Homo sapiens: one gene and its partner. The protein of the gene in region 1 purifies or fractionates together with the protein of each later gene. This does not show direct contact. Each region holds a gene or a part of one and is shown on either strand. Other genes may lie near its edges.

Region 1 (3,500 bases):
GGCAAGAGGATCACTGGAGCCCAGGAGCTTGAGGCTGCAGTGAGCTATGATTACACCACTGCACTCCAGTCTGGGCAACAGAACAAGACCCTGACTCTTTATAAAAAAAATAAAATTTATACAATATATTACCAATTATTATATAAGAACAAATCATATAAAACAATTTCAAACTAAGTCCTGTTGCGGACAAATCAAAAGTCCCACCAAATTTTTTTCACGTATGGTATATATCTGACTTTTATTACATTTGTAAAATTACATGGAAAAAACTGGGGCCATTGTCCACAACAGCAATTACTCCTAAGTAGATGTCAGAATCACCTGGAAAGCTTTTTGAAAAGACACCTGCCTTGAACATGTCTTTAAAGAGTAATTGAGTACATCTGGAATTCTAGGTTCCTAGATGATTCTGATATGAACCCACTGACTGAGAATCTGGCTAGGGATCAAAAATATTTATTTGATCTGTGTCTTCTGTTGGAATGTTACCTAACCTTTAAATTACAAAACACACACACACTTCCCTGTAACTTCTGATGAATACCTTCTGATTTGCTTTTGCTCCTCTGGGTAAAAGACAAAGCTGTTGTGCCCAAGCAAGTCTTCCAGACATTCCCCGGACCAGCACAGTGACAGAGGGGAAAAAATCATCTAGAATAAAATATGTATATAAAAGTTTTAATTTCAGACAACAACCATTTAAAATAAACTTGTTATCAACTGCAGAGCTTCTCATAATCAAAGGCCCAACAGTGTTTCCTAAGCTTTGATCTTTTGTGTACCACTTCTGTGGTTTCTGCCGTACCCATACCCGTGTACTGTAAGTACTATTACTTTGTATCAACCACTCTTGTGCATCTCTAAATGGAAAATCATGAATTTTGGCATGTACTAATTATATAATTTTAAAGCACATGCTTAAAAATACATAAAATAATGTTCACTAATGTATCAACTAAGATCATCTCACATACCTCCAATGGTACATGTACACATTTGTGGGAAACACTGTCCTAGTAAATACTCTTAACCTCCCAATGTTGGGAACAACTTAAGTGTAGAAAGACAGACTGGGTGTTTGCAGTGTTAGTGTTATATCTGCCCATGCCTTTGTGTACCACTGCCCACCACAGGCAGGCACTGTTCCATCTCAGCAGAAGTTCAGGGACATGATGGGGGTGTTAAAAAAAACACTCAGGATGGACTTCCCGAGTGACCCAGATCCTTTTTTTTATTCTTCCGTCTCAGATATGGGAGTCAAACGCCTTCAAACTTCTCTATAATTTCTTATTATTACAATAAACTATTAAAATGTCCTTGTAAATCTATACAATTCCAATTGCTTGTATTTTTGGTACACTTCCTATGCAATGAAATTATTTGGAATGAAAGTAGGAGAGTCTTTAAAAAGCTGGAAAAAGGCCAGGAAGCCTGAAGGGGACACTGGGATTTTGCAGACTCCTCAGCAGATGGCTTGGAGTAGGAGGCTGGAGGAATCATGAACAGGCACAGGCTAGGAAAGAAAGCCAAGCAAGCTCCATGTCTAGGGTAGAGAAGGATGAGATGCCTGTAGAAAAGACTTGGGAGTAGCAGTTCTGAAGTTAGACAATAATAAAAGGCACCATTCCATTTCACATTAATGTCACCGCATCTCACCACAACACAACAGAAGTTTATGATGGTATTCTTTTCATCTCAAACTGCAGGGAAATGTCTCACTTTCACTTCATGGATTTATGAGCTCTTACTCATATAATCAACAAAACTGGCACAGAACTCTTCACCTTTACAAAGGCAAGAAGGCAAATCTTTAATCACTGAGCAAATCCTATCACTGTGCGACAATAATAATAGAAAGGGACAATACAGGGTTTAGAAAATCTGGGCTCTAGTCCCAAGTAACCCTGGGCAAGTCATATACCCTCTGTGAGCCTGAGTTTTTTCACTCATAACTAAGGGAATTGTATACCAGGTGACTCCATGGGTCACTTTATACCCACAGATTCTGTAACCTTCACTTTCCTTCCCCTTCCCAGCAATAAGGGTCTGAGAACATGCTTCTTTTACATACTGGCTGATGCCAATTACCATCAGAAAAAAAAAATGTACTTGTGGATAGTTTGGGTCGCAGTGATAATCACATATTGTGAGATGGCTTATAACTGAGGGGGAGGGAAAGGAGGAAAACAGTGCATGTTGTGTTAATGGAAAATCACTGAAGGATTTTCAGTAGGGCACTGGCATGGTCATTTGTGGTTGAAGATGAATACTATGGTGGCAGCAAGTAGGATGAAAGTAGGGAAAACACATGTTAGAACTGGCAAGGGGTTTAGGGGTTGAGGGAATCAGAGTAGGTAGGAAACAGCTGTAATAATCTAGGTGAGAAATAATAAGGACCTGCACTTGGATGTATTGGGAAAATACAGAGGAAAGGAAAAATTCAAGGGTCCCTGGGAAGATGGAAACTTAGAAACTAATTATATAAGTGAGTAACAGGAAGGGGCAGGTAAAGATAACTCCTCAAGTTTCTAGCCTGTGTAGGTAGCACCAACAATTGATACAGAACATGAGGAGTGAGAGGGAGGGGAGCAGAGGGGCAGGATCCGAAGTTCAAGGGGGAAGAAAAAGTGACAAAGATAAACAACACAATGGAACCCACTAAAACACCACCTTTTATAAAACTACAGAGCTAGTTCAGATGCACATCAAGAGCCTTTAAAAGACTCTATGTAATATGTATATTCTATTTTTTTGCCCCCCTATTTTTCAGGTGCTATTGTCCCACAGCTAGAAATCTTTCTGACCTACTTAGAATCTGTAGGCTGTCCTTCCCTGATCCTGGAAACAGCTTCATGGTACTGGTAACACTGATTAAGCAGTAGAGAAGGCTCAAAGTACTATAAACTTACTCTGCTCATTTCCAAGAGGTTGTTCCAGCATTGCCAGGATGACACTGTTATCCAAGACAAAGTACCGGAAACTATGCTTGTTTATGGTTGGCAGCCTGGAGTATTTAATCAAAGTGGTCTCATTCACAAGACTACAAGGAGAGGCAGGACCACTAGGTGAAGGAAATGCGCCGAGCAACTGCATAATGCTATGGAGAATGGAAAAGATAACAGTTAATTCCCAAAGCAAAATCTTCAGTTTACCTTGTGCATCAATGTGTCCCCTTCCACTCTTCTGAATTTTAATTGACCACAGCCATGCTTCTTGACAGGTCAGATTTACTCCTTGTGGTGAATGCCATGGCATGCTGTCCAGACTCTCCCCTCCAAGATTAAAAAGCCCATTACCCCAGATGCATACCTGTATGTCTTTATTTCAGAGACATTTAATCTGCCTTTCCAGTCTGGTCAATATCCGGAACAGAAAATGCAGTTAGGCTGGTATAATTTGATCTTAGTGACCTACTCCCTTACCAGCAACCTATCTGATATCTTAGAATCTTGCATGGAACACAGCAAGCTCATATTCCATATGCTTTGTGACAACCG
Region 2 (3,500 bases), on another chromosome or scaffold:
GAAAAGTGATTTTCCCCTCTTCCATCCCAATGTTCACCTTCTACAAAAATCACAGAGCATACAAGCCAGAACTGTATGAAGCCTCTCATTTCACCTGGCATAAACAGAAAGAAAATCAATGGGAAAGAAAAGTCAAAGGATAACTTAATAAACATAAAATGAAGTCTCACAATTCAATACTTGAGAGTCTGGACCTATCTTCTGAAATATGCCATCAACTATCTTTGCTTCTCCTGCTTCTGGCCTAAGGTGACTGTTAATTAAGTGTTTACATTGCTCCAAAATGCCAACGAGGTGTAGTTTATAATAAGAGTACACAGAAATGTGCCCAGCAAAGTAAGAAGCACTGTACTCACAAATGGTTCAAATACTTGACACCTTAAAGATCATGGATCATACAGCTAGAAAAGAACTCTTAAAGAACATCTGGTCTGAACAAAAAGGATTCATGTTTCTAGTATTCACTCAACCATGGGGGAAGGAGGAGATGACAAAAAATATAATTGAAACAACTTCCTTTTTTTTGAGATAGGATCTTGCTCCATTACCCGGGTTGGAGTGCAGTGGCTCACTGGATCATGGCTCACTGCAATATCAAACTTCTGGGTTCAAGTGGTCCTCTCACCTCAGCCTCCCGAGTAACTGGGACTACAGGCATGCACCACCACGCCTCGCTAATTTCTTATTTTTGTAGAGATAAGGGTCTCACCATGTTGCCCAGGATGGTTTTCAACTCCTGGGATCAAGCAATCTCTTGCTTCAGCCTCCCAACGTGCTGGGATTACCGATGAGCTACCATGCCCAGCCTAGTTTAATGATTTCTATACTTCTAGCATAGTACCAGGCAATTAAGACATGGTCAAGAGTTACAAAATTTGGGGGAAGAGAGGTGACAAAGTAAATCATGTATTATATATTGCCTTAGTTTGTTAAAGTAATACCTATACTAACAAAGATTTTTTCAGGGGCCCACTTCATCAGATGCTTCATTACCAAACCAAACAAAGGATGTATAAAATACATTCTAAAGATAAAAGGTTAGCTGCTGATCAAGCAATGGCGACAGCTGTGGTATTAAGATAAAAGGAATGCTGGAATCACCATTGCAAGACACTGCCTCAATTTACTGATCTGCAAAATGAAGAGCATTTTCAGATACTTTTAGTCTCAGATTAAAGTAAGAAAACAGGGAGGATGCAGGAGGCAAATTCAGACACCTGGAAATGTTGCTTATGGCTCAAACTACCTTCCTTCGATGAGAGAGGGAGTACAAATGAAAGGTGAGTAAAAGGGGAAAATCAAACCCTCCACTTCATAAATATTTGTCAACTATTGTGCACATGCGTGTTTTCTTTTTTAAAAGATACTTTTTATTATAAAGGAGTTTTGTTCTTAAAAGTTTACTAGTTGAAGTATAAGGGTTTTTAAAAACTGGTATCAAGTCAGTGCTTCAGACACAGCCACACCACGAGCAGGGAGGGAGGTATGACATGACACAGTTGTTGAACATACTGCTCTGTACTGTGTCTCAGTTCAATCTTGGCTCAAGACTTAAGCCAACTATAGGATCACAGTTATTTCTTCCCTCACCTATAAGATGTGGCTATCAATATGTTTTGTAGAGTATAGATAGGATTAAATGAGTTAATATATGTGATGTGCTTTAAGTGTTGTCTGGCACATTGCAAATGCCCAATATCGGTTGTTGTTGTTATTATTACTATTATTTTGAGACGGAGTCTTGCTCTGTCACCAGGCTGGAGTGCAGTGGTGCAATCTCAGCTCACTGCAACCTCTGCCTCCCTGTTTCAAGCGATTCTCCTGCCTCAGCCTCCAGAGTAGCTGGGACTACAGGCACATGCTGCCACACCCAGTTAATTTTTGTATTTTTAGTAGAGACGAGGTTTCACCATGTTGGCCAGGATGGTTTCAATCTCTTGACCTCATGATCTGACTGCCTCGGCCTCCCAAAGTGCTGGGATTACTGGCATGAGCCACCGCGCCCCACCAATATTGGTTATTATTAAAGATCTTTTTAAGTTCTAATACCATGTTAAAATTCTACATGGAGGGCAAGACCTAGTGACTCACGCATGTAATCCCAGTGCTTTGGGAGGCCCAAGTGGGAGGATCACCAGAGGCCAAAAGTTTGAGACCAGCCTGAGCAATACAGTGAGACCCCATCTCTACAAAAAAATTTTAAACTTAGCTAGGTGGGGTGGCACGCCTGTAGTCCCAGCTACCTGGGAGGCTGAGACGGGAAGATCACTTGAGCCCTGGAATTTGAGACTGCAGTGAGCCATGATCACACCAGTGCACTCCAGCCTGGGAAACAGAGGAAGACCCTGTCTCTAAAAAATAAAAAAATTCTACATGGAATAATAACAGGCACTGAAGTACTGCTAAGGAAGACATTAACTGGTCATCAAAATCATGATATTTTAAATAAGCATTGCTTTTTTTTTTTTTTTTTAAAGACAGTCTACCTCTGTTACCCAGGCTGGAGTGTAGTGGTGCAATCTCGACTCACTGCAACCTCTGCCTCCCAGGTTCAAGCAATTCTCCTGCCTCAGCCTCCGGAGTAAGTAGCTGGGATTACAGCAGTGCGCCACCATGCCCAGTGTATTTTTGTATTTTTAACAGAGACAAAAATAGGTTTTATTACCTTGGCCAGGCTGGTCTTGAACTCCTGACCTCAGGTGATCCATTCGCCTAGGCCTCCCAAAGTGCTGTGATTACAGGTGTGAGCCATCACACCCGGCAATAAGCACTGCTTTTTATCCGTCAATCTTATTTCCAGGAACCTCTCAAGGATGTGTGCAAATACGTATGTATAAGGATGTTCATCAAACTTCTCATTTATAAAATAGCAACAAGTGGAAAACTACCTAAATATCAATGAACAGGATATTGGTTAAATAAGTGATGTCATACCTTTACAACTGGAGTACTATGGCAGTCAATCTATTTATTTTTTATTATTTTTTTTTTTTTGAGATGGAGGCTCGCTCTGTTGCCCAGGCTGGAGTGCAGTGGCACAATCTCGGCTCACTGCAAGCTCCGCCTCCCGGGTTCATACCATTCTTCCTCAGCCTCCCAGAGTAGCTGGGACTACAGGTGCCCGCCACCACACCCGGCTAATTTTTTGTATTTTTAGTAGAGACAGGGTTTCACCGTGTTAGCCAGGATGGTCTTGATCTCCTGACCTCGTGATCCACCCGCCTCGGCCTCCCAAAGTGCTGGGATTACAGGCGTGAGCCATTGCGCCCGGCCTATGGCAGCCAATTTAAAAGCGTAATGTGTACCTACAGTTAATGACATTTCTGAGTGGAAAAAAAAATCAAAGTACAAAATAACACGCGTTGATCCCACTGATATTAAATTTTATAGTTCATATTTTTGAGTCAATATGCAGAGATCTTAGAAAATGTTCACCAAAAACTGTTATCCAAAGATGGAGATGAAGATTTTAGGGAATGCCTTCTTTAAACCTTTGAGTA

The links.
Region 2: the proteins of RALGAPB (region 1) and DHX15 purify together in Homo sapiens (tandem affinity purification; one study listed by IntAct). This does not show direct contact.

The regions. Positions count from the first base shown.
Region 1 is NC_000020.11:38,545,843-38,549,342, reverse strand, and holds part of RALGAPB (ral GTPase-activating protein subunit beta), read right to left. Parts: intron 3,101-3,500; coding exon 2,913-3,100; intron 655-2,912; coding exon 548-654; intron 1-547. UniProt on the Homo sapiens protein: Non-catalytic subunit of the heterodimeric RalGAP1 and RalGAP2 complexes which act as GTPase activators for the Ras-like small GTPases RALA and RALB.
Region 2 is NC_000004.12:24,578,055-24,581,554, forward strand, and holds part of DHX15 (ATP-dependent RNA helicase DHX15), read right to left. Parts: intron 1-3,500.